Homo sapiens: one gene and its partners. The protein of the gene in region 3 purifies or fractionates together with the protein of the main gene of each other region. This does not show direct contact. Each region holds a gene or a part of one and is shown on either strand. Other genes may lie near its edges.

The links.
Region 1: the proteins of ANKRD50 (region 3) and HABP4 purify together in Homo sapiens (affinity purification with mass spectrometry; one large-scale study listed by BioGRID and IntAct). This does not show direct contact.
Region 2: the proteins of ANKRD50 (region 3) and ACSBG1 purify together in Homo sapiens (affinity purification with mass spectrometry; one large-scale study listed by BioGRID and IntAct). This does not show direct contact.
Region 4: the proteins of ANKRD50 (region 3) and TLE2 purify together in Homo sapiens (affinity purification with mass spectrometry; one large-scale study listed by BioGRID and IntAct). This does not show direct contact.
Region 5: the proteins of ANKRD50 (region 3) and MYO1E purify together in Homo sapiens (affinity purification with mass spectrometry; one large-scale study listed by BioGRID and IntAct). This does not show direct contact.
Region 6: the proteins of ANKRD50 (region 3) and ESF1 purify together in Homo sapiens (affinity purification with mass spectrometry; one large-scale study listed by BioGRID and IntAct). This does not show direct contact.
Region 7: the proteins of ANKRD50 (region 3) and CWC25 purify together in Homo sapiens (affinity purification with mass spectrometry; one large-scale study listed by BioGRID and IntAct). This does not show direct contact.

Annotation. Positions count from the first base shown.
Region 1 is NC_000009.12:96,463,669-96,467,168, forward strand, and holds part of HABP4 (intracellular hyaluronan-binding protein 4), read left to right. Parts: intron 1-1,668; coding exon 1,669-1,830; intron 1,831-2,041; coding exon 2,042-2,110; intron 2,111-3,500. UniProt on the Homo sapiens protein: Ribosome-binding protein that promotes ribosome hibernation, a process during which ribosomes are stabilized in an inactive state and preserved from proteasomal degradation.
Region 2 is NC_000015.10:78,231,766-78,235,847, forward strand, and holds the start of ACSBG1 (long-chain-fatty-acid--CoA ligase ACSBG1), read right to left. Parts: upstream 2,801-4,082; 5' UTR 2,737-2,800; coding exon 2,606-2,736; intron 1-2,605. UniProt on the Homo sapiens protein: Catalyzes the conversion of fatty acids such as long-chain and very long-chain fatty acids to their active form acyl-CoAs for both synthesis of cellular lipids, and degradation via beta-oxidation.
Region 3 is NC_000004.12:124,702,733-124,706,232, reverse strand, and holds part of ANKRD50 (ankyrin repeat domain-containing protein 50), read left to right. Parts: intron 1-3,500.
Region 4 is NC_000019.10:3,008,781-3,012,280, forward strand, and holds part of TLE2 (transducin-like enhancer protein 2), read right to left. Parts: intron 2,381-3,500; coding exon 2,242-2,380; intron 923-2,241; coding exon 762-922; intron 166-761; coding exon 89-165; intron 1-88.
Region 5 is NC_000015.10:59,226,372-59,229,871, reverse strand, and holds part of MYO1E (unconventional myosin-Ie), read left to right. Parts: intron 1-2,281; coding exon 2,282-2,413; intron 2,414-3,500. UniProt on the Homo sapiens protein: Actin-based motor molecule with ATPase activity. Unconventional myosins serve in intracellular movements. Their highly divergent tails bind to membranous compartments, which are then moved relative to actin filaments.
Region 6 is NC_000020.11:13,716,373-13,718,919, forward strand, and holds part of ESF1 (ESF1 homolog), read right to left. Parts: coding exon 2,536-2,547; intron 1,143-2,535; coding exon 996-1,142; intron 1-995. UniProt on the Homo sapiens protein: May constitute a novel regulatory system for basal transcription. Negatively regulates ABT1.
Region 7 is NC_000017.11:38,818,822-38,822,321, forward strand, and holds part of CWC25 (pre-mRNA-splicing factor CWC25 homolog), read right to left. Parts: intron 2,253-3,500; coding exon 2,080-2,252; intron 1-2,079. UniProt on the Homo sapiens protein: Involved in pre-mRNA splicing as component of the spliceosome.

The DNA of each region.
Region 1 (3,500 bases), on a different chromosome or scaffold from region 3:
TTATTTAAGTTGTGTTTCTTATAAGAGACTGGCATGACGTTAATGATCAGTACTTCTGTATTTCTTTATTTTTTGAGTAAGGAAGATTGCGAGTTTTGTATACTTTTACCCACTATTGTATAGCGGTTTCTTAATGTAACACTTTTAGCCATAAAAGTAGATTGTAACATACCTCTACTGCTGGTGTTTGAGCTACTAATGCCACTAGGTTTCTTGATGCCAGGACCTCCATTAAATAAGTAATTTCTTGTGATTTTAAATGTTTTTAAAAGCCTTTCCAAATTAGAAAACATTTATTAAACTATTGTTACAATGGTGAAAAAGAGCTTAGAGCTTAGTGAAGGAGAGACAAGTCCTCAGAAAGAGTGCTGGTGCCCAGCGACGGTGCAGGGAGGAGTGGGTGGGCAATCAGGTCCTGGGTCCAGGCTCTGATGTGGCAGAGGAAGAAGAGGGAGGAGTGGCTTGGGCTCTCGCTCGTATTGTGAGTTGGGAATCACAGGAGGAATAAGGGCTCCGCGTTGGGCATGTGTGTGCCTGACTTGGGGATGTCCGGGTGGAGATGTCTAGGAAGTAACTGGCTTCATGTCCTGCAATCAGATGAGAGACACAGGGCCAGTTAGCATTAGCATGGGGGGCCAGGCGGATGTGGCATGAGCCGAGATCCTGCCACTGCACTCCAGCCTGGGCAACAGAGCAAGGCTCTGCCTCAAAAAAAGAAATCTAAAGTAAGGTTCTAATAAAAGAAAAGTGAGAGTGCCCACAAGGATAAGGACAGATGGGTATCCGTATAGAGCACCAAGACAAGTGGTTAGGCACGAGAGGCAGACGGAGAACTTTTCCCTTCTGTGAATCTTGAATTGGCTGCCTCTGAGAAGTGGAATTGCGTGGCTGAGGAACAATGTGAGTTTTGTACCATGTTTGGGTATTATCTATTCCAAAAATAATTTTCTAAGGGCAGGCAGAAAAAGAGAAGCCAGAAAGTCAGGAAGATTGGTGGCCAGGAGTGTCATATGACACTGGGGTCAAATGACATGAAGACAAAAGTTGCTATTGGGCTTAAAGAGGTCTTCAGCTGCCCTTGGCCGTTTATGTGGAGTAATGAGGTGGAAGGCAGGTTAAGGTTTTCACAGTTCCAAATGTTACCGGCTGGTTGTGTGTTTAGGAGGGAGATTTGGAAAGGGGCATAATTTGAAGTTTAACCATTTTTCTTACACAAAACATTCCAAATTTAACTTAAAGATTTGGTATTAGAACAGGAATGAACGTTAGAATTTATTTATCAACATTCTCATTTTTTGAGTAAGGAAACTAGATCCAGAGAGAGAAAGGAATGCCCCATTCAGATTAGTACTATGCCTGTCTAGCACCTGCTTCTCCTGGACTGGCCCCACCACTTAGCCTACTCTCTGCTTCCGTTTCCTCATCTATAGGCAATAATTGTATATTAAAGATTTGTTTGTGAGAATCCAGTTACTATATGTAAAGTGCTCAGAACAATGCCAGGTATATAGTCTATAGTATGCGCTCACTAAAGGTTAACTATTAATTTGTGATTCAAGCCACCATTCTTTCCAGTATACTATAACCATGATTTTCTTTTAGAATTTTTTTCTGGAGAGACCTTAGACCTTTAATTTACCAGTTTTTATTATATCCACTCCTTCCTAGACCAGGTGATAGGTTTGATCGAGACAGACCGTTGAGAGGACGTGGAGGCCCGAGAGGGGGTATGCGCGGCAGAGGCAGAGGTGGCCCTGGGAACAGAGTTTTTGACGCTTTTGACCAGAGAGGAAAGCGAGAATTTGAAAGATATGGTGGGAATGACAAAATGTAAGTTTCTTTGTAAATGCTATTTTCACTTTAAGATGGTGTCAGCACGTGGTATGAATCTATTATGTGTTAATATTTAGTTAACTTTATAGTACTGTGCTGTTATTCTTGTGAGAAGCTGATCCTGGGACTTTTATGAACCACTCTTTCTGATTTGGAGATTGACTGGAGACTAGCTTCTGGTTTAAGGGACTATTCTTTCTTTCCGTAGAGCAGTCAGAACTGAAGACAACATGGGTGGATGTGGAGTTCGAACCTGGGGATCGGGTAAAGATACCAGGTACGGTGTAAGTGTGTGCCCTCTGAGAACCTGCAATTAAGTGGAAATCTCTGGATCTTTGCTTTTCTTGAAAATGATGTCTTCTGTATTGTGCTTTATACTTGTGTGCCCCTAAGTAGAGATTGATTTTAGGCTTTTGTTTCGTGAGATAAGTTTTTAAAACAGGTTTGCTATGTTGCAGTTAGATTTAAACTGCTTTTAAAATTCTATTACTTTAGCCAAACAAATTTGTGACAGATGACCATGTATTTGCTGATGCCTCAAACATATGGCACTGTACATTTGCACATGCCTCAAAATGCTTTTTGTTGGCTGCACACGGTGACTCACGCCTGTAATCCCAGTACTTTGGAAGCCAAGGTGGACGGATCACTTGAGGTCGGGAGTTTGAGACCAGCCTGTCCAACATGGTGAAACCCCGTTTCTACTAAAAATACAAAACCTAGCAGAGCATGGTGGCAGGCACCTGTAGTCCCAGCTACCCAGGAGGCTGAGGCAGAAGAATTGCTTGAACCTGGGAGGCAGAGGTTGCAGTGAGCCGAGATGGCACCACTGCTCTCCAGCCCGAGTGACAGAGCGAGACACAGCATCTCAAAAAAACAAAAAAAAGCTTTTTGTTTTGTTCATTATTTTTTAAAATGGTGACAAGATCTCACTATGTTGCCCACACTGGTCTTGAACTCCTGGGCTCAGGCAGTCCTCTTGCCTCAGCCTCCCAAAGTGCTAGGATTACAGGCATGAGCTACCACATCTGGCCTAAAATGCTTTTTAAATTCCTGGATATTCTATATGTTTTTACCTTTCAAAGTTCATGTGGATCCTTGACACATCTTCATTTCATAAAATCATTTGTAGATTGAAGCTTAGTGACAGGTTTCACCTGAGGCTCAAGTTGGACATTTCTCTGAGGCTTCATGGTGCCTTAGATCTGTGCCAATTCTTCTGCTAGTTAGAGTGGATACATGGTTCTGCTCTGTTTTATTTCACAGCTGGAGGGATGATGCCTTCCTGGTGTCTGCAGAAGAAGAGGTAGGGCATGCTGCAGGCAGTGCAGTGTGAGCAGTGCTACAGGGCAGGCTTCCCGCTAGTGCAGAGGCTTGAGGGGATCCAGGCTTCCACTTTTCTTCTTTTGAAGAATATAAGCTTTTTTTTTTTTTTTTTTGAGACGGAGTCTTGCTCTGTCACCCAGGCTGGAGTGCAATGGCGCGATCTCGGCTCACTGCAACCTCCGCTGCCCAGGTTCAAGTGATTCTCCTGCCTCAGCCTCCCAGGTAGGTGGGACTACAGGTGCACGCCACCATGCCTGGCTAATTTTTGTATTTTTAGTAAAGACGGGGTTTCACCACATTGGTCAGGCTGGTCTCGAACTCCTGACCTCAGGTAATCCACC
Region 2 (4,082 bases), on a different chromosome or scaffold from region 3:
TTTAGCAGAGACAAGGTCTTGCTTTGTTGCCCAGACTGGTCTTGAACTCCTGCACTCAAGCAATCTTCCTTCCTTGGCCTCCTAAAGTGCTAGAATTACAGGCATGAGCCACTGCACCTGGCTCTCTCTGACTTTAGAACAATGTTTTACAAGAATTAAGTTCTTTTCTCACAGCTGCTCTGCAAGAATGTCAGAGCAGGTTTAGCTTCCCTGTTTGACAGATGGGGAAACTGAGGCTCAGAGAAGGTATCTTGCCAAGGGTCACAGAATGGGTTAGGAGCAGAGCTGGACTGGAACCCAAGGCATGTGACCTCCAGCCTGCTGCTAAGAGTGTTGCTATGAGAGTTACTATGCCTGTGATGGGTAACTCTTATGCTTTGAAAACATTTTCATACACATTAGCTGATGGAATCCACCCAATTTTTCTGCAATGTCAATGAAGTTCAGGCGTTGTATATTTATTTGTACAGAGGATGCTATTGAGGCTCAGAAAGGTTAAACAATGTATCCAAAGTCACTCAGCAAGAAAGTAGTAGAACTGACACTCCAACTCTTGGGTTTTTAGCCTTTCTCTTTCCCTACGGGGTCCCAAGACCCATTTACCCTTTCAGGAGGGAGTCCTTCTCTGCACAAGCCTAGGGTTCTGCCTCAAGTTTGCCTACTTTCCTTCAGTGATGTCTGCAAAACAAGCCCAGTCCTCTGTGAGCTTTGCAGGGCACACAGGACCCTCTGCCACCCCTTTTCACCACAGGCCTGAGACACAGGCTCCTGTGGCCCTGAGCCCCACTTGGCCCCTCACTCACAGGGAGCAGAAGACCCTGAGATCCTGCAGACCTTGATTTTGTTTTCAAAGACTCCCCTGGCCCTGGCTGTCCTCATGCCTGTCTACCCCTGCTCTGGGCACATTTATTTCTTTTTCTTCTTTTTTTTTTTTTTGAGAAGGACTTTTGCTCTCGTGGCCCAGGCTGGAGTGCAGTGGCACGATCTTGACTCACTGCAATTTCCACCTCCCGGGTTCAAGCAATTCTCCTGCCTCAGCCTCCTGAGTAGCTGGGATTACAGGCACGTACCACCACCTGGCTGTTTGTATTTTTAGTAGAGACAGAGTTTCATCACATTGGGCAGGCTGGTCTCAGAACTCCTGACCTTGGGTGATCCACCCGACTCAGCCTCCCAAAGTGCTGGGATTACAGGCATGAGCCATCATGCATGGCCTCTGGACATATTTCGATGTGCTCCTCTGAGCATCTCGCCTGGCCTTCCTGCTCTCTGAGCCCACAGACCCCAGGGAGGAGGGGAGGTGCCAGGACACCGGGGCCCAGAGGAGATCCTGAATCTGCCCTTGGGTGAGGAAGTCAGTCCAGCTTTCTTCCAGGGGCCCTTGACCCTCTGTGCACCTGACCTATGCCCAGGGAGGGGCTTGCCCTCATGCTCTTGGAGGCTTTGCAGGGAAGAGTCCCTGCTTCTGGAAGAACAGGAGTCCACTTTGGATTAGCAGGGTTCTCTGGAGACCCAGGGCAGGGCCCAGATGCCAGCCCTCGGAGGGGCCTCTGCATCTCTGAGGCGCATTAACATCTGTTCCCATTTCCCTCTATCTTCCTTCCCCATAACCTTCCATCAGGACAGGGGCTGTAGTCTTGGTAGCTCAGACACTGGCAATTCCTCCCCATTACTACAGAGGACTTGGACCCTGGTATTTAGCCCCTGTCCTCCCCAGTTCTATGCTTCCGCCACCCAGACCTCTCCCATCCCCAAACTTCCTGTCTTGCTTTGTTAGGTCGTTCTCTCTGCCCACTGCTCTTGGCTCCACTCTGACCGTCAAGGTCCATCTCAGGCGCCCCAGTTAGAAACCTCCTTCTCTCTGCCCCTTCGCCTGCGCCCCTCCTGGACACAAATCACAGATGTTGGGGTCCTGGAGTTCCGTGTGTGTGCGTGTGCGCGTGCGCCTGCCTTCTTCCTGCCTTCTGGCCAGGGCATCCCAGGGCTGGGACTGAGTCTCATCTTCTCAGGATCCCCTACTCCCTGGATGGACAGGGCCTGGGCCAGGGTGGGCATTGGTGAATGCCTGATACGTTGAATCCACTTCCTCTAAATCACAGATTACTGGAATATATACAGTGGAAGGGCTTTAGGGAAACCTCAGCCACTGCACTCATATTCAGACAGGGAAGCTACAGCCCACGGAGGGCAAAGGCACTTGCCAAGGTCACGCAGCAAACTGGAGCGGGAACCTCTGGGTCCCCACCAAAACTTATCTGTCTTTGACCCCCGCAGGCAAAAGTCCCCCTTGAGGAGACAGGGAAACATTCTTGACTGAAAAATTCCTCCTCCATCCAACTGAGATCCAACTGGTCTCCAACTGCAGCCCCAGCTCATACCCCTGGGATGTGCCTCATTCTTTGATGAGCCTTTCTTAGCCATGCTAAGTAGCCCTCCAAATGACCAGTTCTTCCATCTTACGGATCGCCCAGATCCTTCCCTTCATTTCCCAGGTGAAGAAACTGAGGCTCAGAGAGAGAAGCAGCTTGCCCAAGTTCACACAGCAGAGCAAAGTCTAGAACTCGGCCCACAGGTGCAGTGTGCAGAAACCCAACCAATGACTTACCTGGTTTTCAATTTTTCTTGGGTGGTCCTCACAATCATGTCCTGCCGGCTCTCCTGTGGGGTCTCTCTGCTGTCCAGCATGCTGGGGTCCCCGTGTGGGCAGCCGTATCCAGCTCCAGAATTGCGTGGCATCTGCCTCGGGCTTCCACTGAAGACAGCTCAGTCACCCACTGAGAGAGGCTAGCCTTGAGTGAGCAGTGGGGGTGGGCATGGGGCAGGGGAGGCGGCAACTAGAGTGACCCAAAGAGGCTCATTTCCTCTCTATTTTTAGAAGCTCAAAAAAAATTGCTCCTCAGTGAAGTTTCTCAGAATTAAAACTTTCCTTTTCTTTGTGGTTTTGTTTCTCTCAAGATGAGGAGAATTTCAATGAAGCCAGTGTTCTTTTTGATGCAAATCCGCTCCGCTTCTCCCAGGAGGTCTGGCCAATGGGCTCAGGGCTTCTGGGCCCCCAGAAAACCTCCTCACTGGCTTTAAAAGGTCATAGTGGTTCTCAGCACAAATCCAGACCCAGATCCTGAAGTGGCTGCTACCCCTGGCTGCATACACTCTGCAACCTTGACTTGCGGTCTGCCGAATGCTGCCCTGGGAGGGATCTCACCCACTCAGTCCCCCTCCCCCAGGTCCTGCATGGAGGCTGGAGACCCAAGGAGGGAGCCCACCCCGGGGGAAGGAAGGAGACATTTCCAACACTGAGACCACGCCACATGGTCTATAGAAGCAGTTGCACTGAAGACATGATAGAGGCAACCGAGGAATGTGACTTTCCAGGGACACATGAATAGAAGCCTGGATCTGTCCCTTCTTCTAAAGGAAAGAAGCATGTTAAGGGGGGCGGGGGGGTTTCAGGCAGCCATAAAGAGATGGGAAATTCACACAGGACAAGGCCTTTTTCTGAATACCAAAAGTCTCCCCTCTAAGACCATGTATTCATTCCCCAGGGCTGCTGTAACAAAGTTCCACAAACTGGATAGCTTCAAACAACAGAAATGTATTCTCCCACGGCTCTGGAGGCCAGAAGTTGGAAATGAAGATGTGCGCAGGGCCACACTCCCTCTGGGGGCTGTGGGCAGACTCTTTCTTTGCTTCTCTCCCAGCTGCTGGGGGTCACTGGCCATCCTGGGTGTTCCTTGGCTTGCATGTGCATCTCTCCAGCCTCTGCCTCTGTCCTCACGTGGCTGTCTTTCCTCTGTGTCTATGCCTTAGTACATTTTCTGTTGCTATCACTGAATACCTCAGACTGGGTAATTCATAACGAAAATAGGTCGGGTGCGGAGGCTCATGCCTTTAATCCCAGCACTTTGGGAAGCCAAGGTGGGAGGATTGCTTGAGCGTAGGAGTTCAAGACCATCCTGGGCAACATAGTAAGACTTTGTCTCTTCAAAAAATAAAACAGAATTAGCTGGGTGCCACGCCGTGGTGTGCACCTGTGGTCCCAGCCACTTGGGAGGCTGAGGTGGGATGATCACTCAAGCCTGGGA
Region 3 (3,500 bases):
TATTTATTAAGAACCTTCTGTGTGTTAGGTAGAGTTCAGCTGGAGATAAATCAGGGAATAGAACAGACAGAATTCTGCCTTCATGGAACTCAAATTCTAACATTAATATTTATCTTATTCATATAGAGAGAAATAACCATCAGAGTAAATACTTGTTACAGTGTTCATGAAACACATGAACATTTAAACATTAATAGAATTTTGTGATCTGCTAAAGGGAATGATATGAAGACACATTGCTATCTTTTTTTCATTTTTATTTTTCGTATCTGGTTAAAGTACAATGCTATTGTTAATTTCTTTACAATATTTTATTTCCTCATTTCTGAAACTAAGTTGATGTTTATATTTTTACTTACTTTGAGAGCCAAAGGCTGATTTCTTTAATTCTGCCTCCCACTTTAGGCCTTTAGTGCAAAACTTTGTATATTTTACATTGACTGTGTCTTTTCTAGAGTTAGTGTTAGAGGTGGACTCCTAGTAGTCCTATAATTATAAAACAAATTCCAATTATTTTTGACAAAAAACTCAAGCAACTAAGTTAGTGAGGGGTGGAGGGTGGTAGCATTAGGTTTTGTGGCTGGTTTAGAAGATAGCTGTTTCAATCAACCAGAAACACCTTTCTGGACTTTGAACAGAAATCGTTTTGGAGATTTAAAAGGATATGGTGTTGGGAAATACAAATTTTTGTTCTTAGTGTATGTCATTACCTCACTTTTATTTCTTGTTAACAGTCTGCAGGACCAGATATGTGATGTCAGTTTTCCTATGTTGGGTAGAAATATTTTGTTCTGTGTAATGTTAATAGGAAAAATTAAATATCTTCAGGGGTAACACGGGTTAAGTGTAAATGGAGTAAAATTGCAATAAAGAATTAAAGATGAATAACTCTAAGTTTTGAGAGTTTAATAGAAAATTTGTGCTAATGGTGAAAGGCAGTATGCCTTGTTTGAAAAAGAGTGCAAACTGGGAGACCAAATACTGACATTTGTTTTGTGTGTCAAATGGGAATCATTGAATGTTTGAATAATCCTTCTAATCTTATCTCCTCCAGGAGCATTTATGGATCTTCACTTATATCTGTTTAGGTTTGTAGCTTGCGTTGCAGTTTTTTTGTTTGTTTGTTTGTTTGTTTTTTTGAGATGGAGTCTTGCTCTGTTACCCAGGCTGGAGTGCAGTGGCGTGATCTTGGCTCACTACAAGCTCCGCCTCTCGGGTTCACGCCATTCTCCTGCCTCAGCCTCCCAAGTAGCTGGAACTATAGGCACCCACCACCACACCCAGCCAATGTTTTGTATTTTTAGTAGAGGCAGGGTTTCACCATGTTAGCCAAGATGGTCTTGATTTCCTGACCTCGTGATCCACCCACCTCGGCCTCCCAGAGTGCTGGGATTACAGGCGTGAGCCACTGCGCCCAGCCGTGTTGTAGTTATTTATGTATATATCTTTTGTTATCTTCCCTATTAGGCATATGCTTCTTCATAACGTTATTCATGACTGATGAATTTTTTATATTTACCATGGTGCTTTGTATATAGCACTTTGCATATAATAATTGTTAAATGACTGTCTTTTGAATGAGTGCATAATGCTACTTGCCTATCTAGAATATGTGTGAACCTAATTGAAAGAAGGCTGAAGCTCTTGAATAAGAAAGGAAATTGAAATGTTATGTGATTTAGGTCAGTTTTAAATGCAGACCAGACTGGTATAGTGATTATTAATTTGTTAACCTGCTGTCTGTTCTTTACCATGTATTAATATGGCATTAGTCCAGATAGTTTTAAGTGGCCAGATATCTATCTCCTGTCTCAACTGGCTCCAAGGATTTTTGGCACTCAACAAAGAGGCGAAGAACAGAAGGGGGTTGGAATGTGTGCCTCCTTCTTACCCTCACTTGTATGTTTTCAAGGCAAAATATATTACATTCGTAATCAATCTTGTATAACTAGTGCTATTTAAAATAACTGTCATTATCTATTCTTAAGTATTGTCAAATTAAAAGATTATTCTAAAGTCCCATTACTATTCAAGTTTTAAATAAAATAAGTGAATCAATATAATTTCATAATCAAAACTTTACATGTTTGTCTTTTAGTCTAAAGATCATCACCTTTCACTGAATGGTCTATTGTTTCCAACTTTTAACTATGTCCTTTCTACTTTAAGATACAAACTTCTGTTTATTCAAATCTTCCCACTTTCCCTTCTGAAAATCTTTTCTTTTTACCCTAGCTTGTCTGTTCCTTTTATATTTCAATCTAAGTGCTGCTTCCTTTGGTTCCTGGTACTCTTTATCATTTGCTGAACCAGTCCTCAACCTCTAATCACTTCTGCTCTAATGACATAACATATTGCTCCTGTTTGCATACTTAGAACTTTGAAGTTAGCCACATTCTTAGTTCTGTTCTGCAGTCCAATTTATTGTTTGATAACTCAGATTCCTTTTAGACCAGAGAGAGTGAAGTGGTGCTCTACAAGTTGAGTATGGGATGTTTTTACCCCAATGCAGCAAATTTCATATACATATCCAGATTTTTGCTTTTTCTTGAAAAAAAAAAAAACCTGGAAATTTTGACAGTACTTGGTTCTCATTCCTTTGAGGCAGTAATCTTACAGACTTGAGTCAGCTGCTGTCTTTATATAAGCCCTGCATGCTCTAATTTGGTTCAGCCTTCACCATGCTCTATTATTCTATAGCAGGACCAGTTCATGTATTTACATGTGCCAGCTTGGCTCCTATAGTCATTTTCAAGGACAAATATGTTTTCTATTCCTCTGAAAAAAATGCTGCATTTTTTATCACTCCCAGAATTTGCTCTCATACTGTCTAGAGTTCGTATGTGCAAGCGCTGCTTCCTCTTCCGTATCAGTTTCCCTTCCTCTTCCCCATCAGTTTCTTCCTAGCTTGCTGAAATCTAACGTTCATCTCTACACATTTACAGAAAGATGTTTATGCATGATTGCCTGTGAACGTACTGCTCAATTTGCCTTTAGGCTTTAAATGATGTATTTTAGGTATTTTTTTTCAGTATTTGTACTTTTTTCTTTCAGAATCTCGCACTGACTCCATTCTTTGGTGGACCTTCCTCTGGGTCCTCTCTGGGTGTTTGCCCCACAAGCTTAGATCTTCTCTCTTTACACATATGCCTTCAATTATTTTATTTACTTACATGGCTACCAATGCATAGATAAAGCTGTTGACGCAGATTTGATTGCTATCTTATTAGCAATCAAATCTGCATCAACAGCCTTATCATTCTGATCAATATGTATCCTTTCACTTGGTAGTCCCTCACTAACCTATGTTTAAACTAACTTCTCTTGAAGCATTTCTATTCATTGATGATTCATTTATTTCTTAATCAAGTATTCAGTGTCAACTATGTGTTAGATGTGTACTAAGTATTAGGGCTAAAGTATTGAGCCAAGCAGAACACTAAGTTAAGTGAGGTAAAATACATTGAACAAATAGTCACAAGAATACATGTTTAGAACAC
Region 4 (3,500 bases), on a different chromosome or scaffold from region 3:
GGAGACCCCAACCACAGAGGGTAAGACCTCAGAGGAGGTGGGGGGCTGGCCCGGGACCCCAGGCAGGGAGCCCCACCCTGGTACTCACGGCTTTCCCCCAGGGATGCTGGGTAGGGAGGAAGAGACGGATGACCCTCGGAGATGGGGATGAGACTCAAATGCCATCTGTGAGAATGCCAGGGGGGTGTCAGTGAGGCAGGTGACTCCAACCCACCTCTGTGCCACCCCACGCCCACCTGCCATACCCCTCTCTGTTTATCACCCCTCCCCAAGGCAGCAGAGATGCCTTCTCTCTGCCTGTCACACTACAGATGAGAGGGCTGAGGTTTTCACTTGAGCACACCGACACCAAAATCTCTATCCAGGAAATCCTAGAACTCCACGGTTCCAAGGATCCTGAAGGGTTCTCCATCCAATGCCCAGACTGGCTCTAGGCCAGGGTTCTGAAAACTCCAGCCCCTCCCAGGACAAATCTGGTCCACTGCCTGTTTTTGTAAACAGTGTCCCGAGGCCAAGGCCCTACTGCTCCTCTTCATGCAGCTTAATCGCTGTTGCGTTTTTCCACAATCAGAAGTCTTGCTTTGTATTAAGCTTGTGGGACTACTGAGACCCCCAGATTGTCTTCCCATGCATACTTGCTGAGCCAGGGCTCCCTTCCCTTTCTGCACTCCCTTGTCTCTCCTTGTGTAGTTGGTTTCTCCTCCCGGCCCCCAGCCCCTGGGCCCTGCTGACACCTCCTGCGCCCCCACCCAAGGACTCACCACGGGGGAGCGTCCGTACACCACAGAGCTGCTGACCTGGGGGGACAGGTGGAGGCTGACGTAGGAGCTGGGCACGGAGAGGTCTCCGTTGAGAGTGCTGTGGGAGCCCAGGCTGAAGGACGTGGTGAAGGGACTGGACAGAGTCAGGGGGCTCCTCAGGGCTGAGACGGAAGAGTCGGGGACAGGTTTTGACGCCCTGGACCCAGATCCCGCCTCCCACTGCCTTGGGAGCTCCCTGGCCTTTCATTTAGAGTTTCCATGTGCTGGTTCCACATTGGCCATAGCCTGGGACACCTCCAGACCTCTGCACTATCGTTCCTCCAGTGGACACGACTTTCTCTCTCTCTTTTTTTCTTTTGTTTGAGATGGAATCTTGCTCTGTCGCCAGGCTGGAGTTCAGTGGCGCGATCTCGGCTCACTGAAACCTCTGCCTCCTGGGTTCAAGCAATTCTGCTGCCTCAGCCTCCTGAGTAGCTGGGACTATGGCCATTCTCCTTCTTTTAATTGGCAAACTCCTATCCATCCTTCAAAACCCAGGCCCACCGAGCACAGTGGCTCACGCCTGTAATCCCAGCACTTTGGGAGGCCGAGGTGGGCGGATCACCTGAGGTCAGGAGTTCAAGACCAGCCTGACCAACATGGTGAAACCTGGTCTCTACTAAAAATACAAAAATTAGCTGGGCATGGTGGTGCATGCCCGTAATTCCAGCTACTCAGGAGGCTGGGGCAGGAGAATTGCTTGAACCTGGGAGCGGGAGGTTGCAGTGAGCTGAGATGGTGCCATTGCACTCCAGCCTGTGTAACAAGAGTGAAACTCCGTCTCAAAAAAAAAGGAAAAAAAAAAACAAAACCCAGGCCCAATGTCCATTAACATCTCAGAAACATCCTTGAGCCTCCCCATTGCCAACCTCCAGCCCTGCCCATCTTGGGTACCTGCCTTGGTACCAGCCCTGACTATACAGGGCTGTGAGTTTTGGGGTCTGGGTCCTGTCCCTTTTTGCCACCTGGGAGTTCCTTGAGGGCAGATTCCAAGGCCAGCTTCTTTCAGGGGCCCCAGAACCAGCCCAGGGCCTGACCATAAGGCAGAAAAGATGAGCACTGTCATTCCTCAGATTACTGATGGGGAAACTGAGGCTCAGAGAGGTTGGGTCACTTGCCCGAGGTCACCCAGCTGGTGAATGCCCAAGCCTGGTCTGAAACCCAAGTCTGTCTGGCCCCAAAGATTGTCTTTCCAGTGCACTAGGCTGAAACCCCCGACTAAGCCGCTTCCACTCTCCAGGCCTCAGTTTCCCTACCCGCCGAGCTGACACAATGAGGAACTGCCCAGAGGGAGGCAGCGTCTAACTTGAAGTCACAAAAAGGACCAAGGCAATGAACACCAAGCCTGGAATCCCAGCATTCTGCCTCTCCAGCCCCTTTTCCTAGATCTCCCCAGAGACGAGGCCTGCTCCAGACAGGCACCAACAGGCAAGGTGCTCACCGACGCTGTCCGTGGAAGGTGCTGGCTTGGCAGCAAGCTGGCAGAGGTGACTGGCCGAGCTGGGCCCGGGGGTGGAAGCGTCCTGGGGCGGGGAGGAGTCACAGGATTTGGAGGCAGGAGTGCTGGCGGGAAGGTCATTCTGCAGAGAAAGGGCAGGACTGAAGGCCACCAGGCACCTGGTGTCTTGTGGCCCAACGATCTGATCAGAAACTGGGGTTGGGGGCGGCCAGTCGCAGTGTCTCACACCTGTAATCCCAGCACTTTGGGAGGCCCAGTCGGGCGGATCACCTGAGGTCAGGAGTTCGAGACCAGCCTGGCCAACATGGTAAAACCCCATCTCTACTAAAAATACAAAAAAAGATTAGCCGGGCGTGGTGGCATGTGCCTGTGATCCCAGCTACTTGGGAGGCTGAGGCAGGAGAATGGCATGAACCCGGGAGACGGAGCTTGCAGTGAGCCGAGATCACGCCACTGCACTCCAGCCTGGGAGACAGAGCGACTCCATCTCAAAAAAAAAAAAAAAGACTCTGTCTCAAAACAACAACAGGCCAGGCGCAGTGGCTCACGCCTGTAATCCCACCACTTTGGGAGGCCGAGGCCGGTGGATCACTTGAGGTCAGGAGTTTGAGGCCAGCCTGGCGAACATGGTGAAAACCCCATCTCTACTAAAAATACAAAATTAGCTGGACGTGGTGGCGCATGCCTGTAATTCCAGCTACTTGGGAGGCTAAGGCAGGAGAATTGCTTGAACCCGGGAGGCAGAGGTTGCAGTGAGCCGAGATCACGCCATTGCACTCTAGCCTGGGCAACAAAAGCAAAACTCTACAAAAACAAAAAACAAAACAAAAAAAAGGCAACAAAGTTACAAAGTTATAGGCTGTCAAGATTTGCAATTCTTTTTTTTTTTAATACAGGGTCTTGCTCTCAAAACTAACATGATCAGACAGGCGCTGTGGCTCACGCCTGTAATCCCAGCACTTTAGGAGGCCAAGGTGGGCGGATCACCTGAGATCAGGAGATCTAGACCATCCTGGCTAACACAGTGAAACCTCGTCTCTACTAAAAATACAAAAAATTAGCCAGGCGTGGTGGCACGTGCCTGTAGTCCCAGCTACCCACTACCCGGGAGGCTGAGGCAGGAGAATCTCTTGAACCTGGGAGGCAGTGGTTGCAGTGAGCCAAGATTGCGCCACCACACTCCTCCCTGGGTGACAGAGCGAGACTCCATCTCCAAAACGAAAAACAAACAAAAGGCACGA
Region 5 (3,500 bases), on a different chromosome or scaffold from region 3:
TGTGCACATTATATGAAAGGTAACTAAGAGGTATGTAAATCAAAGTTTGACATCTATGACAGTAATTATTTAGCAAGAGAATGAAGAAGTGGCATCAGGGTAGAATTATGAGTAATTTCACTTTAAAAAATGCACAGGTATTATGAAGCATAAGAATGTATATATTTAACACTTACAAATCTTTTCAAGTTAAAGAATGTATTACGAAATACTTCAAACACGATTTAAAAACAATGCAATGAACATCTATGTATCTGGCACCCAGCTTAGGAAATAAATCATTACCAAGAGTCGAGGTGAAACTTCTTTTCATTTCATTATCAAAATGCAAATGCAACCTTTTATTCCCTTTATAAAATTTCCTGTCATCCCCCCCAGGCTGCTATACAGCAGTCCTAAATATGTTAACCTTTTGTTAGAAATTTTAACTTTTATATGACAATTATGAGCCATGCATATGCATTTTATTATGTTAGAGCAGTGGTTCTCAACCTTGACCACACATAAAAATCAGCTGGGTGCTTTTTGAAAACCACACAGCTCCGGGCCCTGGTCCTAGAGTCTGATGTGCGTGGCCTGGGCTGACAGCATGTTGGAAAGGCTCCCCAGGTGTTTCTAAGGGGCATCCAAGGTTGAGCACTGCTGCTAGGAGGACTTGGGAGCTTGCCTGTCCAACACCTGCCCTTCCTGGGTCAGATGTTCTGTTTGGTTTCATTTTCCCTCAACTGTTGAGGAATGGGGGACAGGCACTGAAGTATTCCCTCTATCACATGCCAAAAGGAAAGGGTGGTGAAGGTGGCCGCCAAAGGAAGCACGGGAGCTCTCTTTCAGTGAGCTTTTCTCAGGTGCCACTGACATTCCGCAGAGCGATGGCTGGTGGTTCTCTGTGCCTGGTGCTGCTGGGTGTTTTTGTTTTTTGCCTGGAGGAAAAGAATCATCAGATTAAGACACATAGACAGTTAGAGGCTGGCCGCCTTCGGTGGTCTTTCTTGACACCTAGAATAATTACGAACAGGAACACGGCATGTACTCACACATTTGCAGTGTGCACAGTACTTTTCTTGCCCTTAATGAGTTTACAGCTCCAGTCACAGACATAAAACCCAGCTGAATTCATCCCTGAGATGGGTGGATTTAGTCAGCATACACATTTTTATGTTATTAAATGTGAATGCGATGAGGCTGGGCATCTTCTCCAGTTTGACCATAGACCACACCACTCCCTCTTTTCCTTTATCCGTATTTACCCTTCTGGCCTCTGAGGGTGCTTAAGTTTCTAAGCACAGGAGACAAATTAAGTTCTAGTGAGAAAAAAAAACCAATTTAAATATACATATGAAATATATATAATAATTGTTATAATAATTATATATATAATTTTGATTCATTTTATTTTGGTTTTTGGACAGAGTCTCGCTCTCTGGCCCAGGCTGGAGTTCAGTGGCATGATCTCGGCTCACTGCATCCTCCACCTCCCAGGTTCAAGCGATTCTCCTGCCTCGCTGGGACTGCAGGCACCCGCCACCATGCCCAGCTAATTTTTTGTATTTTTAGCAGAGATGGGGTTTCACCATGTTGACCAGGCTGGTTGCGAACTCCTGACCTCCAGTGATCCACCTGCCTCAGCCTTCAAAGTGCTGGGATTACAGGCGTGAGCCACCGCGCCTGGCTATATATAATTAATATAACAACCTAGATACCTTTTCAACTACAGTCTAGGTTTTTATTCTCCTTTGTTCCCTATTAGCAGTCATTTAAAGAGGAATTTTCATAACAATGACAGTGACAAAAATCCCTAGGCCCGTCAGTAGCTAGAAAGAACTTTACTTTTAATAAAGTGTTTCCGTTCTAGATAAACATTTTAGATGCTCCGTAGGTAAGAGAGATTGAGTGTTTTTGCTCAAAGCCATGAGATGAAGCCTGACAGAGCAAGAGTGCTCTTCCTCTGAAAGGGTGCCATGCCATTTTTCTGCCTCATGATTTACACCTTCTGGTTGAGCAGACAGGCACCTACTGGGGGAAAATGAGCAAGGAATAGAGCATATCCTTATTTAGTCATGCTGGAATGATAGGTGCTCTCTCTAACAGAATCGTGTGGCTGGACAAAAGCACGGGTTATTGTCTGATTGAAAACTAAGGAAGTCTAGACTCAAATTAGGAGTAATTCAGAATGTGTATTTTATTAATGAATTTCCTTGAATTATATACTGTATTCAAAGCCTGTTTGGGACATCATGTTTTGTTCACCAACCATTGAAGGAAATCCCTAACTTTCTTGCAGGGAAAATACTTTGAAATCCAGTTCAGTCCAGGTGGGGAACCAGATGGTGGAAAGATCTCCAACTTCCTTCTGGAAAAATCTAGGGTGGTGATGAGGAACCCAGGAGAGCGGAGTTTTCACATATTTTACCAGGTTTTCCTGTTTACTTTTTTCCTACCCACTTCCTGTCCCTTCTCTACATTAAAATATTTCTCAGACTTCAGGCATAGACTATAGTCTAGGAAGCCAGGGAGGACTGATGATGATACCATGTACAAGTCAATGTGCAGAATTGTGAGAATGTCCTGCCCTCAAGGAGAGTGAGTTCTAATTGGAGTGATAAGACAGAAATTCCTCCAAAGCTAAATCATCAAGAAAGTATTGATGTAACTTCAAAACAAAACGAGGAGTGTTGGAGTCTTTGCCAAAGGAATTCAGGTGGGCAGGTTTGGCCGGATAGTAGGAGAGGTGTGAAGGAGGTAGAGCCCGGATGGAAAGTGGAGGGGATTGATGAGGGAAGACAGGTGACCTGCACCAAAGCAGTGGAGGTGGGAGAGGGAAAGCCAGTCAGGGAGCCCGGCCTCAGCCTGCCTGCAGGGCAGGCGTCTCCAGAACGTGAGCTACCGGAGGAAAGATTTGAGATAGGTTTGGGATCTTTAATGCCAAATTGAAAAGTTGCCACCTAGACCCTCAGAAGTCATGGAGAGTTTGGGGCCAGAGCAGCTTGCAGGGTGCTTTTTGATTATGTTACAGGCTTCAGCAGTCATCTGAGTCAGCTACTTTTATTTTATTTATTTTTTTATTTGAGACAGTGTCTTGCTCTCTTGCCCAGGCTGGAGTGCAGTGGCACAATCTTGGCTCACTGCAACCTCTGCATCCTGGGCTCAAATGATCCCCCTGCCTCACCCTCCCAAGTAGCTGGGACTATAGGCACATGCCACCACACCTGGCTAATTTTTGTATTTTTCGTAGAGGTGGGGTTTCACCATGTTACCCAGGTTGGTCTCTAACTCTCGGACTCAAGTGACCCACCCACCTCAGCCTCCCAAAGTGCTAGGATTACAGGCGTGAGCCATTGCACCTGGCCCTGATTCAGGTACTTTTGTAAAAGGTTTTTAAGTACTTAAAAAATATAATGATGTTAATAACCAAATTTTTTATGTTCTATTTACTTATTAGTATTTTATATTGAAGATCCACATTAGACTTTCTTCGAAGAAAGACCTGGTCACTGTTTTTT
Region 6 (2,547 bases), on a different chromosome or scaffold from region 3:
CACACAGTGAGTGTGACCCACTGTGACATGAACCTGCTATTCAAGCATACCTTTGCTGGTCTGAGGATCACTACATGTGATTCTAACATTAAAAACTACACATTTTTGGTACAATATGGCTACCAAAATACAAGTCAACTATTTCACCTGGTGCTCAACCAAAGAAACAATGATTTCATCCACCCTAGGATGAACTGGCTGTGCTGGATTAAAAGACAGTAGCCTTTGGCTCCACCATCAGTCTTTCTGAAGACATTTTCTTTTTTTTTCTTTTTTTTTTTTTTTTGAGACAGGGTCTTGTTCTGTTGCCCAGGCTGGAGTGCAGTGCCACAATCATGGCTCACTGCAGGCTTGACCTCCTGGACTCAAGCGATCCTCCCACCTCAGCCTCCTGAGTAGCTGGGACTACAGGTGTGCGCCACTATACCTGGATTTTTTTTTTTTTTTTTTTTTTTTTTTTTTTTAGACAGAGTCTTGCTCTGTCACCTGGGCTGGAGTGCAGTGGCGAGATCTCGGCTCACTGCAAGCTCCGCCTCCTGGGTTCACGCCATTCTCCTGCCTCAGCCTCCTGAGTAGCTGTGACTACAGGTGCCCGCCACCACGCCTGGCTAATTTTTTGTATTTTTAGTAGAGATGGGGTTTCACCGTGTTAGCCAGGATGGTCTTGACCTCCTGACCTCGTGATCTGCCCACATCAGCCTCCCAAAGTGCTGAGATTACAGGCATGAGCCACCACGCCCAGCCAGCTAATTTTTTTTATTTTTCATAGAGATGAGGGTCCCACTATGTTGCCCAGGCTGGTCTCCAACTCCTGGACTCAAGTGATCCTCATGCCTCGGCCTCCAAAAAAGTGTTGGGATTATAGGCGTGAGCCACTGCACCGGGCCCCTAAGACATTTTCAAGGGTAACTTTGACTATGCTCAATTTCTATCTGCAGAGCTGACTTTAGATTCAATTCCAGCTTTAAGAGGCTATGCCTGGTGTCTATGGTTACCTCAAAGTCATCCTCTATTAATTCCTTCTTTTTCATGAGCTGCTTTTTCTTCTTTTTGCTCAGATTCTGGTGCTCCACAATCTTGTTGTAATTGAAGTGTTTCTTACTGTCCTCGTCCTCATCCATCATAAGCAAAGCCATTTCAGCCTGTAGAGAGCAAAAAAAAGTTCAAATGTACAACAGTGCTTTTTTTTCCACCCCCAAAAAGGAGTATAGGGCAGAAGATATCTCTTCTAGAAAGGAAGACTCAATCACTAGAACTCTGGGGTACCACCTGTTGTCTGTAAACTGACTGTGGATTACCAAAACAAAGAGATCTTTGTATAGCAATAAGGTAGAATCTCTGGAAGCAACATTACTGAGAGCAGGAGAGGTAAAACCTTGTAGTTAAAAACCAGGCCCCATTTCACTTAGTGTGACTCATTAGTAGGCTGCAGGAACAAGAGTCCCCAACTACCCTCAAATAAAAAGTTCTCATTTTCACTTTGTTCTTTTTGCGCAATGATGCTAAATCTAGCAAATGTTTATTTTGTGATGCAAATTATACTTTCTAAATGTGTAACTTTTAACAAGTAAGTTTTTTTTTTGCTTTTTTTTTTTTGGCCTTTACTGTTTCAATACTGATACATTTCTATGAAGGTAGGACCTTAGGATCTGCTTCTGAAATCTAGTAAATGTCTTTTTACACTAAACGGGTATTTTCTACCAGCCATGGGATTAAACGAGAACCCTCAAGAATCAAGTAAATAACCATGTACACTAGTAAAAATACAGAGTATGCTCTCGACCTTTGTGGATCTTCCTATATTACCACTTTAGACTGCCTTAATTTCCTTTTGTCACTGGCACTTTTAGCTGGCTTTTCAGAGACATTTTCCATAAAAATTGATTTTCTTTGTTGCTCTTTAGATAACTTTATGTGGCCAGTCAGGCACACTTCTGGACAGTGACATGAACATCAGCCCTAGGGGCACTGCTGCCTTCAATTCCTGCCTCAGCAAAATCACATATGACTCTGTGCCAAAATTACGTGTGACTCTGGACATAGGGGGTCACTGAAGCATAAGGTTCACTGCATTTCCAAGAATGTAATTTTGTACGTTAAATATACATATTCACAATAAGAAAAACAGAAATTTGCATTTGACAAACCATAACCACAAACTGTATTCCAGGACAGATTCAGATTGAATTAAAACTTATGGCAATATTATTTTGAGGTTTTAAGGGTATTTTCTGCCTCAGGTATAGTAAGTGTTTTTAAAAGTGAGATAATTCCCTCTTAATTTATAAAAGAAAATAAATACCCTTGAATTTGAGGTTAATTTTAACTTTGTACAATTTGGAGAAATTATGTTTGGTAAAAAAAACACTGTATTTAGAAACTACACTGCTAAAATATTTAATTATGTCTCTTACAATTTAGTTATAAATGCCACTGCTAAAATAAGTTGTTTTTTAAAATTAGTGACATGTACAACTTCATTTAAATTGTACCTATGAATTATCCACTAAGCATGTAACAATAATCGTATTTTACCTTTTGTCTTTC
Region 7 (3,500 bases), on a different chromosome or scaffold from region 3:
CTGGCTCCTTTCTCTACAGTTGTGCATCTGTACTCTGACCTCATTAATCAGACTCCACAAAAGCCCAAATTTCTGATAAATTGAGCACATGATGTGTAATGCTTTGGTGAATAAAAATGTCAAAACAATTTTTACCTTTGGATAGTACCTCGGCTTATGACTAATGGGTATTCAGTCTAAAATCAATTTTTACTTATTTATTTATTTATTTATTTACTTAGAGGCAGAGTCTCACTCTGTCACCCAGGCCGAAGTCAGTGGCAAAATCATAGCTCACTGTAGCCTCGAACTCCTGGGCTCAAGCAATCCTCCTACCTCAGCCTCCCAAGTAGCTGGGACTACAGGCACATGCCACCATGCCCAGCTAACTTTTCCTTTCTTTCTTTTTTTTTTTTTGAGACGAAGTCTTACTCTGTCACCCAGGCTGGAGTGCAATGGCGTGATCTCAGCTCACTAAAACTTCCAACTCCTGAGTTCAAGTGATTCTCCTGCCTCAGCCTCCCGAGTAGCTGGGATTACAGGCATGTGCCACCATGCCTGGCTAATTTTTGGTTTTTTTTTTTTGAGACGGAGTCTCGCTCTGTCGCCAGGCTGGAGTACACTGGCGCAATCTCAGCTCACTGCAACCTCCACCTTCTGGGTTCAAGCGATTCTCCTGCCTTAGCTTCCCGAGTAGCTAGGACTACAAATGCATGCTACCACGCCCAGTTAATTTTTTTTTTTTTTTTTTAGTAGAGATGGGGTTTCACCGTGTTGGCCAGGCTGGTCTCGAAATCCTGACGTCAGGTGATCCGCCCACCTCGGCCTCCCAAAGTGCTAGATTACAGGCGTGAGCCACTGCACCCAGCCTCTATTTTTTTTTTGTTTGTTCGTTTTTTTGAGATGGAGTCTCAATCTGTCGCCCAGGCTGGAGTGCAGTGGCATGATCTCAGCTCACTGAAACTTCTGCCTCCCGGGTTCAAGCAATTCTCCTGCCTCGGCCTCCTGAGTAGCTGGGATTACCGCCACACCCAGCTAATTTTTGTATTTTAATAGAGACAGGGTTTTACCATGTTGGTCAGGCTGGTCTCGAACTCCTGACCTCAAGTGATCTGCCCGCCTCGGCCTTCCAAAGTGCTGGGATTACAGGCGTAAGCCATCGTGCCTGGCTAATTTTTTTCTATTGTTTTGTAGAGATGGGTTCCTACTACAGACTGGTCTAGAACTCCTGGCCTCAAGTGATCTGCCTGCCTCAGTCTCCCAAAGTGCTGGGATTATAGGCATAAGCCGCCACACTCAGCCTATATATTTTTAAACAGAGATGGAGCCTCACTACATTACCCAGACTGGTCTCAAACTCCTGGGCTCAAGTGATTTCTCAGCCTCCCAAAATACAGCAATTACAGGCATGAACCACCGCACCTAGTCCCCAGTTTTAGTCTATCTGTTATTTTATTTTATTCTGACTTAAGAATACACTGCATATTGTATGCTTTTTATTTTCTCAAACATATTTACTCCCATCTCCTTTTATGAGATGGATGGGGTAGTTATTATCTGCTACTCGTATCCTATATTATACAACAGGAAATTGAAGCAGGGTAAAATCTAGTGGCATTGGCCGTAATCACTCAGCTTTTATTGACAAGCATACCATCCACCTTCTCTCATGGGACCTCACTCCCTGCCCCCTGTCCCCGCCGACCCAAGCAAGCCTGAAATACATTAACAAAGGCAGGACTGCATCCTCAACATATGCTGAGAAGCAGGGTAGAGCAACCATCCTCCATCACGGTTATCAGCCATCTACTGTGAGCTCGGCTTACAGCAAGTCCTTACGTGTTATCTCATTTGATTCTCAACAAACCTTAAGAAGGCGTTGGGTATTATTACTCCCTGGTCCTACTGAAGTAACCAAGTCTCTCAAATTTGATCACAGTTCCACAGCTAGTACATGCAAAGCCAACCTTAGAATCCAGGTGAGTCTGGCATTACAACCCATGCCCTTAAGCACTCAGCCATTATACAACACTGGATGATGCATCTCAGGACAGCTCTGCAATTCCCTACACACAAGCGCACCCCCAGCTCCTCACTTACTTGACGGCCCCAACATCCTCCGCATAGCGCTGCATCTCTTCCCGGGCTCTCTCTTCTCGCAGCTCCCGCTGAAGCTCCTCAATCTTCTTCCGCTCAGCCTCATGCTTCTGCTCGGCCTTCCACACTTTCTCCACATTCCTGAGGGTCTGCGGGTGCCAGCTCTTCTTCAGATTCTGTGGTAAATAAAAAGAAGGTGATGATAATTCGGGGGGTGACTGAGTGGTGGGTATAACTAGCCCTGCCTCACCCACCCTTCCATACCCAAGGCAGGCGTGTGAGGGCAAGATGTCTTCAACAATGGCAAGGTTTTCTTCCAATAATCTCTCACACATCTAGAGGGGAAGGGGAGCTTGTTCAAGTGTATAAAGCTTCAGGACAGGTCGGGCGCAGTGGCTCACACCTGTAATCCCAGCACTTTGGGAGGCGGAGGCGGGAAGATCACTTGAGGTCAGGAGTTTTAGACCAGCCTGGCCAACATGATGAAACGCCTCTACTGAAAATACAAAAATTAGCTGGGCGTGGTGGCAGGTGCGCCTGTAGTCCCGGCTATTCAGCAGGCTGAGGCAGGAGAATCGCTTGAACCAAGAGGCGGAGGTTGCGGTGAGCCGAAACTGCGCTGCTGCACTACAGCCTGGGCGACAGAGCAAGACTCCGTCTCAAAACAACAAGAACAAGAACAAGAAAGCTTCAGGATAGAACGGGTCCTTCCTGAATTCCCTTCAAACAGTTTTAACCTTAAAAGCATACAAGTCATCCTTCCACTAGCCATACCTAAATCAGAGTTGGTGATGACAAGACAGGAGGAATGCAGTAATGAGCAGGAAGGCACATATTTTGAAAGAGAACAGAACTCATGCACTTCTGACAGTGGACATTCATTCTTTTTTTTTTTTTTTTAAAGTCTTACTCTGTCACCCAGGCTGGAGTGCAGCTATCTCGGCTGACTGCACCCTCCGCCTCCCGGGTGCCAGCAATTCTCCTGCCTCAGCCTCCTGAGTAGCTGGACTATAGGCACGTGCCACCATGCCTGGCTAATTTTTGTATTTTTTAGTAGAGATGGGGTTTCACCACATTGGCCAGGCTGGTCTCAAACGCCTGACCTCATGATCTGCCCGCAGTGGCCTCCCAAACTGCTGGGATTACAGGGGTGAGCCACCGTGCCCAGCCTTTTTTGTTTCTTGAGACGGAGTTTCACTCTTCTTGCCTAGGCTGGAGTACAATGGCAGGATCTCGGGTCACGGCAAACTCTGCCTCCTGGGTTCAAATGATTCTCCTGCCTCAGCCTCCTGAGTAGCTGGGATTACAGGCATGCGCCACCACACTCGGCTAATTTTGTATTTTTAGTAGAGATGGGGTTTCTCTATGTTGGTCAGGCTGGTCTCAAACTCTCGACCTCAGGTGATCCGCCTGCCTTGGCCTCT